Linked DNA regions of Homo sapiens. The protein of the gene in region 2 purifies or fractionates together with the protein of the main gene of each other region. This does not show direct contact. Each region holds a gene or a part of one and is shown on either strand. Other genes may lie near its edges. The genes, in order: RNF123 and REG4.

What was found.
Region 1: the proteins of REG4 (region 2) and RNF123 purify together in Homo sapiens (affinity purification with mass spectrometry; 2 studies listed by BioGRID and IntAct, with this or other methods). This does not show direct contact.

Annotation. Positions count from the first base shown.
Region 1 is NC_000003.12:49,696,012-49,699,823, reverse strand, and holds part of RNF123 (E3 ubiquitin-protein ligase RNF123), read right to left. Parts: intron 2,682-3,812; coding exon 2,602-2,681; intron 2,462-2,601; coding exon 2,367-2,461; intron 1,940-2,366; coding exon 1,885-1,939; intron 1,773-1,884; coding exon 1,687-1,772; intron 1,385-1,686; coding exon 1,298-1,384; intron 1,070-1,297; coding exon 1,002-1,069; intron 845-1,001; coding exon 719-844; intron 357-718; coding exon 242-356; intron 157-241; coding exon 52-156; intron 1-51. UniProt on the Homo sapiens protein: Catalytic subunit of the KPC complex that acts as E3 ubiquitin-protein ligase. Promotes the ubiquitination and proteasome-mediated degradation of CDKN1B which is the cyclin-dependent kinase inhibitor at the G0-G1 transition of the cell cycle.
Region 2 is NC_000001.11:119,808,573-119,813,078, forward strand, and holds the start of REG4 (regenerating islet-derived protein 4 isoform 1 precursor), read right to left. Parts: upstream 2,889-4,506; 5' UTR 2,837-2,888; intron 631-2,836; exon of another isoform or gene 457-630; intron 292-456; 5' UTR 198-291; coding exon 131-197; intron 1-130. UniProt on the Homo sapiens protein: Calcium-independent lectin displaying mannose-binding specificity and able to maintain carbohydrate recognition activity in an acidic environment. May be involved in inflammatory and metaplastic responses of the gastrointestinal epithelium.

The DNA.
Region 1 (3,812 bases), on a different chromosome or scaffold from region 2:
TCTAGCATGGCCTGTCTCCTCCCCTCCCATGCCCCTCCCAATGCCGCTCACCAGAAGCGGTGCAAAGTGATGGAAGATGTGGGCCAGTGTGAGGAGGACGGTGGGCTGGCCCCGCAACCGCCACTTGGAGCTCTCCTTGTCCAACAGCCGCCCCTCCTGTGTGGAGGGGGAGGAGGGAGAAGTGTGAGGGGCAGGAGGCTGTGGAAGCCCCCCACCCCGCCTGGCCCAGACCCCAGCTCACCACAGGGTCCAGCTCCACACTCAGCACTGCCCGGAAGCAGCCCAGCAACCTCTGTGCCCGCACCAGGTCAGCACTCGGTGGGTCCTGCAGGGGCCGGTAGCCTGCCACTGGGTAGGTGCCAGAGTTAAGCCAGCAACGCCTTATCTGTGGCTCAGACATGCCTACTCCCTCTCCACTGCCCACCCCCCACCCCGGGGCCTGGGCTCTAGGGCAGGGCTGGTTTGCATCACAACTTGCCCACTTATTCTCCCTAGGGAGGATGCTTCACATTCCTCATCTGTTCAGTGGAGACAAGGGCACCCAACCAACCAGGCTGCTGCGAGGAAAGTTTTCTTCGACACTCTACATGGCCCCCCACTAACTCTGCAGCAGCCAGGGCCTGCCACCAGCCCATGGCACCCCTGGGGTAGGGAGCCCCTCATCCCAGCCTCCCCAAGAGCTTCTGAGCAGCCCACAGCCATCTTCACAAAATGATATCGCAGAGGACGGCTGCCAAAGTTGAAGGCCACGGACTCCTTGAAAGAGAGGCTGATGGCTGGGAAGTAGGCCATACCCAGGCCCCTGGACAGGTTCTCAAAGGCAGTGCCCAGTGATACACCGTTCCTGGGGAGAAGGGTGGGTCTGTGAGCCAGTGCTAAGCATGTGGCTGCCCACCCTCAGGCTATCAAACTCAGTCTGGCCCCTTACAGGGCCCAGGAAACTGGGGGCAGTCTGGGGAGGCCCCAGGGGCCAGGCCTGTGCATAGAGATAGGAAACTCACAGGCAGAAGGACAGAGTGCCATCATCCAGGTCAATCAGGCAGCTCACGATGTCCCCCGCTGCCCACGCCTGCCATGAGAGGAGGCCTCACCAGATGCACAGAAGCCCAGCAGCCTGCTGACTCTGAACCCCAGCTGCGTTTCCAGAACCACCCAAGGGAGACTAGCCACAAGGACAAAGGACCTGGGTCCCTGACCCTTCCCTGGTGCCCTGTAGTCCCTTATGGCTGCCCAGTGGCTCCAAATAAGCTGTAGTAACAGTCATGGGGCGGATGACCCACAGGGGCTTGGCTCTCACCTTGCCATAATTCGTTGTGGTCACATTCCACTTGCGCACGCGGTTGCCATCATAGGCATAGGAGTTGTGTGTATCTCCAACCCCCTCCTAGGGAGGAAATGCCTATGAGGTCCCTGGTGAGGCAGGCAGGGTCTGGGCCAGAGCCCACCAATCACCAGCCTTGGATGCATATGGCTCTACAGAAGGGAACAGATGATCTGAGGGAAAGAGTAAGAGGTATTCTCTGAGCTGGGGTGCCTGGGATTGGGTGGGACACGTTTCTTCTCCAGAGGGCAGTCCAGGTTAGTTAGGGTCCTAGGCAGTTCTGAGGGGATCTGGAGACCTGATGAGGCCTGTGGCAGGAGAAGCTCTCCCTGGGCCCAGGGAGGGGTCCCCTCCCCAACGTGTACCTCCTGGTTGAAGCGGCAGCTGATGGTGCACCAGCCGATCTGCATGAGCCCCTGGGAGGAGATGAGGACCTCGTAGAGCCATTTCCCTGGAAAGAGCTGAGTTAGGGCCACGAGGTGGACAAAGACTGCCTCTTGCCTCATGCCTGGGCCCTTAAACTTTCTCCTCACTACCTAGGCCACAGCAGGGTAAGGTCTCACCTTTGTACACGCATGTGGTAGAGCGGATGGTGCCAAAGTTGCTGTGTCCAATCACCTGGGTGAAGAAGAGGGGTGGTGGGCTAGCTCCCAGGCACACAGAGCATCTCCCCAAGGGAAAAAGACCCCATCCCCAACTGAGCCAGCCCTGGTGGTATTTGCCTGTGGCGGCCAACACTGCACTGTGCCTGAGGACGGTGGGAGCGGGTAGGCTTGTATCAGGAAGGATCCTGGGCCAAGGCAGGATGAGAGAGGGACTCAGGGCTGTGCTGGGAAGGGCTGGGGGCTGAGTCCACATCAAGACTGTTTCAGGGCTTTAGTGGGAGAGTTTGAGGACTGAGAACACAATGGTCTGGGGCCACGTCAGGACAAGTTTTGGCTGCAGCCCCATCAGATGAGTAGAGAGACTAGGGCCACATCAGGAGGAGCCTGGGGCTATGTCAGAAGGGGCTGGACCTGGGTCTCCACACCTCACCCTCACTCACCCCCAGCAGGTCATCATCCACCAGGAGAAGCCCCTCAAAGCCGCCTGTGTGGTCCAGGACCACAGTGGATGGGCCAAGCCGCCCTTCAACCTGTCCTGAAAAGAGGAGAGGTGGGGTCAGGCAGGGTGGAGCATTTGACAGGATGCATAGGGTGTCCTGAGCTCACCAGACGTCTCCAGGCCCGCTACGTCCCAGCTCTGCACCTCCCAACCCCACTCCAGAGGTGGCCACATACCCTGGCTTTCCTCCTCCTCATTGTCCACCTGTAGCAACTGGTCCAAATGTTCTGGCAGGTTCTGGAAGTTCAGGGGTTTCCTGGGGAGAGTGAGAGGCTGCCAGGGGTCCACAAGTCCTTGAAATCAGCCAGATGACACTAAATCCCATCCTTTCCCCTGAGCTCACAGGGGGGCTGCCTAGACTCCAGAAAAAGGGCTGTGCCTAGTCCTAGACTCTGGCATGCAGGAGGTCAGAAGGCCGAATTCTCCACTAAACTCAAAAGTATAACCAGTCCAGGCCGGGTGTGGTGGCCCATGCCTGTAATCCCAGCACTTTGGGAGGCCGAGGCGGGCAGATCACCTGAGGTCAGGAGTTCGAGACCAGCCTGGCCACATGGTGAAACCCCATCCCTACTAAAAATACAAAAATTAGCTGAGTGTGGTGGCGCATGCGTATAATCCCAGCTACTCGGGAGACAGAGGCAGGAGAATAGCTTGAACCTTGGTGGGGCAGAGGTTGTAGTAAGCCAAGATCGTGTCATTGTACTTCAGCCCGGGCAACAAGAGTAAGACTCTGTCTCAAAAAAAAAAAAAAAAAAAGTATGTGGCCAGGTGCGGTGGCTCATGCCTGTAATCCCAGCACTTTGGGAGGCTGAGGCGGGCAGATCACGAGGTCAGTAGTTCAAGACCAGCCTGGCCAACATGGTGAAATTGCGACTCTACTAAAAATGCTGGGCGCGGTGGCATGTGCCTGTAATACCAGCTACTTGGGAGGCGGAGGCAGGAGAATTGCTTGAACCTGGGAGGCGGAGGTTGCAGTGAGCCATGATCGTGCCACTGCACTCTAGTCTGGGTGACAGAGCAAGACTCTGTCTCAAAAAAAAAAAAAAAAAGTAGCCCTCTCTAAGTCTTAATTCCTTCATCTGTAAAAACAGAATAGTGACTTATGTTAGAGATGCTGTGAAGAGCCCAGGGAATAACAAGTGCTGTCTGCATAGCACATAACCTGTCCGCTCTCAAAGGTGGCTGTGCTGATGATGTCTGGAAGAAGAAGGCTGGGAGAAATGCTGGTTCCCAAAGTGGTCAGTACCAAGGCCACCTAGTCCAACCCTTGCCCCTAGGCCTGTGGTTCCTTTGGGGCAGATTCCAGTCTCGCCACCACCCAGCCAGGGGAGTCTGTGTTGAATGGGACATGTTCTGGAAGTATGAAAGGCTCAGCCCTCTGAGCTGC
Region 2 (4,506 bases):
TTCATCTCCATGTTTAAAAACCTATTTCCTGCAGTTCCTAAATGTTTTTGTGGGCAAATGGATGACTGTCTCACATGGGCTGTGTGAACACTGGCTGTGGCTCAGTTCCAGCTACGTGATGGATACTCACCACCCAGGACTCCTGTTTTGGCCAGGCAGCTCAGCAATAGGAGCAGCCGCATGCTTCTGGAAGCCATCTTCCTCCTACCCTGAGGATGTAGCTAGTGCAAGGATCTCAGAGACCTTACTAGCGCTTCTTTGAAACTCCTGGGTTCTCCTTGATCTGCAAATCTGAACACATTTGCACAGGTGAGAAGGACCCAGGAATCTAGATGCCAACTAATACATATGGAGGAAAATAATACAATATTTTCCTGGCTAAATCCAGACTTTATAATGAAGGGAATCTCAAGTTAGATGTACAGGTTAGAAAATTTTAAGAGATTTTGTTCTTACCTGCAAGACCTCCTGGGCCAGTGCCAGAGATCTAACTATAGCAGGCTGAACAGTTTCATAGTCTGCATGGAGGCAATTTGTAAACCACCGAGCACTCGCCCCTGTTAGCTTCAGGAGGGCCAGCAGAGGGCGCCCAAGGCAAGCTTCCTCACAGGTAAGACGGATATGGGCATTCTGTTGTCAAGAAAATCCAATAGAATGGCTCCGACATTGAATTTTTAAATGTTAAAATTAAACGTGAGCACAGTGTCCAATACCCACATTTTACAGATGAGAAAACCTGAGGTCAGTAAGTATGAAGTCATTTGTTCATGGACACCAGCTATAAGCAGATCTGACTCCATCAGCACTCTTTCCTTTACACTTAGTTGACATCATTTTTAAAAATAAAGAACATGGCTTTATCTTTTCCCCATTAGCAAACAACACATGAGCTATTAGAAAATCAATGCAAAACTAGAAAATAAGAAGTAAATCCCATCTCCAGGAGATAATTTGGTGAGTAGCCTACAGATATCTTTCTATGCACCTCTCTCTGTGTACAATTTTATAAAAATAAGATCATATAGTCCTATAGCCTGGTTTTGTTTCTCAGAAACAGATTAATTGTAATACATTGTCTTGCACTCACATAACTTTCATGCATTTTTTATTTTTTCTTTAGTATAAATTCTCATATATAGGGTTGTGGCATCACACAACATGCACATTGTCATTTTAATACCCTTTGTTAAAATGTATGGGCTGTGATATTTACCTCATTAATAGGGCACTAAAAGGATTGGTTCCCTAAGCTCCCAGAGAATGCTTAATTTTGTCAAGTTTTTGGCTAATTTTGGTATATTAAAGAAGAACCTTAGTGTTTTAAAATATTTTATAATTACTAATGAAGTTGAACATCTTTTTATATAATGATTTGCTTTTAGTATTTGGTGAATTTTCATTTTACAGTTTTGCACATTTTTCTATTTCATTGTTTGTGAGATCTTTTTTGTATGTTTATTTGTGAGATCTTTTTTGTATGTTTATTGCCTTTCACGTGTTACTAATAGTATTTCTCAGTTTGTATTTTTCTCTTACTTATTATAATTTTTGCCATTCTGAAATTTTCAAAAATATTGTTATTTTTTATGTTTTTAAAAATAATTTTTAAATTTATATCAAAAGACTGGCCATTACTGTCACATAAGGTTAAAATATTTATCACTGTTCTATTTTCATCTGTCTGGGCTTTGTTTTAACATAAGTATGAAACTGAGTTCTGGATTTCCCTCCCAAATAATTCTTAAAATGAGTTAATTCATTGAATTCACATTTAATCATACTTTATGATTAAAAAATCTGAATATACAATCTAACTCTCAAATAATGGATTGCTTAAAGAGAATAATGTAAATGATGACTTTTCTGGAAAATCAATTCTGGGGTCCATCTGAACACTTTAAGGCAACATTAACTGAGAATGAGACAAAGCTTGGAGAGTGTGGATGTGACCTTCCCCACCCCTTACTTCTTTTTAAATCATTGCGTGAACCTTGCACTTTGCTAAACTTTCCTTCCAAAAGTAATAGTGTATTTTCAATGTCCTCAAACCCCTTTAAAACGCAAACAGAATTTCTCTGTCAAGGTGACCATCTGGGGGAAGGGAGAGGCAGCATCTTTTTTACTAATCTGTGAATAATTTTTAGTGAACTGATATTCATTGAATGTCTGCATGTCATGTTCATAAGTAAGCTGCACTGGGCCGGGTGTGGTGGCTCATGGCTGAAATCCCAGCACTTTGAGAGGCTGAGGCAGGTGGATCACCTGAGGTCAGGAGTTCAAGACCAGCCTGGCCAACATGGCACAACCCTGTCTCTATTAAAAAATACAAAAATTAGCTGGGCGTGGTGGCAAGTGCCTGTAATCACAGCTACTCAGGAGGCTGAGGCAGGAGAATCACTTGAACCTGGGAGGCAGAAGTTGCAGTGAGCCAAGATTGCACCATTGCTCTCCAGCCTGGGAGACAGAGCAAGACTCCATAAAAAAACAAAAACAAAAACAAAAACAGAAACAAAAACAAAAAACCTGCACTGTAGATCTCATGAATGCATGTTACAAATGAAGACACTGACACTTATGATTGAGTAACTTTTCTAAAGTTTCCCAGCTACCAGACTGCAGAGCCAAGATTTAACCCAACAGCTTGACACCAAAGCCAATGCTCTTTGCAGTGAAGGAAGAAAAGAAGGTAAATAATTTAAATCAAACAACACAGCAACAGAAAGCCTGACAAGCCTCACTAGAAATACAATTTGTCATTTCTGGCCTGGCTAATAGCTGACAGAGGAAAACAGATGTTTAAAGAAAGTCCCCCATCATCAACCGCGAGGAGGATTACCTGTTTGGCAACCAAGACTCTAAGGGCCCCTGCCTTCTTCAGTGTCTCCAGTGGTCCCAGTCAACGTTTCTGGAGCTTTTATATCTTCTTGCCTCAGGAATTAATAATCTTTACTTTAGTCACAAAGCGATAATATTATTTGAGAAAAACAATCCATCCATAAAAGTCTTATCTACAGTGAAAAAAATGAATCATATAAGAGACGGCTTCAGAATGTACGTAAGGTGTGCTTTGACTAGCCAGGAAAAGAACCTCTCCCTGTGTGCAAACAGAATCTTTTCTTCACATCACGTTATTAAAACTGACAACATCCTGTAATCTGTTATAAGCCCATCTTCCTCTCCCCTTATGTTACTTTTTCATGGCTGTCTTTTTATGCCTTGGTATGGTGGATTTCCTTTATTTCTCTTTTATTTCTAGAAGGATTTTCTGTCAGGGTCAGGAATAGGTTATGACCCATGCGGTGAGACTTGAGACCCACACACAGATTTTCCTTCCTAAAGCACCGACTCCACTCCTTCAACATGCGTGAGTTTCCTCAGAGATCTACTATTTGAGCTTCTCCCGCAGAACATGGATGATCATGTCAAAATAGCTTACATCAACAGAGTGTGTTACAATAACGGGTTTTCAGTGAAGTCATCAAATAAGATGCCAACAAAATCCTTGTGAGCAGCATAGGACACATATCCCCATTACACACTCAAGAAACCCAACCTTAAGAGAGATTAGAAACCTTCCGAGGTTCACAACACTGGTCAGCAGTGGACCTGGACACTGAACCTTGTCCTTCTGACTCCAAATATAGGTGTTTGCCAAAATACAGTTCTACTGAAAAATAGGCTATTTGAAAAGAGTAACAAGATTTTCTTTTCCAGTATAGATGGCAAAGGGTTAGGTTGTAGGTGCCAGAGATGACTCAACTTTAAACTACAGATTTAAGTCTGTAAAGGACCTTTATGTCTGGAAACTTTAAGTCTGGAAGGGACCATAGTAGTTATCAAATCTTACTCTTTTGTTCTACTGGTGAGGAAATTGAGGCCTAGAGAAACATTGTGACTAGTTTAATGCACAGACAGTTGTGGGTGAAGCTGATATCAGAAGCCAGCTTCCTTGCTCCCAGCTCACTGTTGTTTGGAAAATGCTACTCAACCTTTGTTATTAGATTTTTGCATCAGTTGTGTAAATTCATGGTAGGACATGAGAAAGTAATGCTTTCATGGTTCACAAAGAACATTTTAAAGAATCTCTCCCATCAGAATGTTTGACACAAACCTCTTTCTCTTTAGGCAGCTGGATGGGAATCATCATTGCTTCATGGCACAATGGCGTACAAAGATGTTAACTCCAAGCCTTTCAATTTCAGAAGTCCTGGTCCAGATGTAAGACAGAAAAGTTTTAACAAAATGGGTGATTAGATAGATCTCCTGTGTTTCCAGCAGCCATCCCAACCCTTAGTCTGCTATCCCCATGCCATTATCCAGATTTAAAGACTTGAGATGAGAGAGAAGAGAGTAGAACAGATTAGAAAACAAGATGTTCATAGGACTTTTAAGAGGTCTCTTACTGAACCCTCACATTGACTAGCTCCAAATTAAGGCATTGATAGGACTCACATAAACCTTTGAGATGTAAGAATGTAAAGGACCAGAAAATTGTCTGAATCAAAA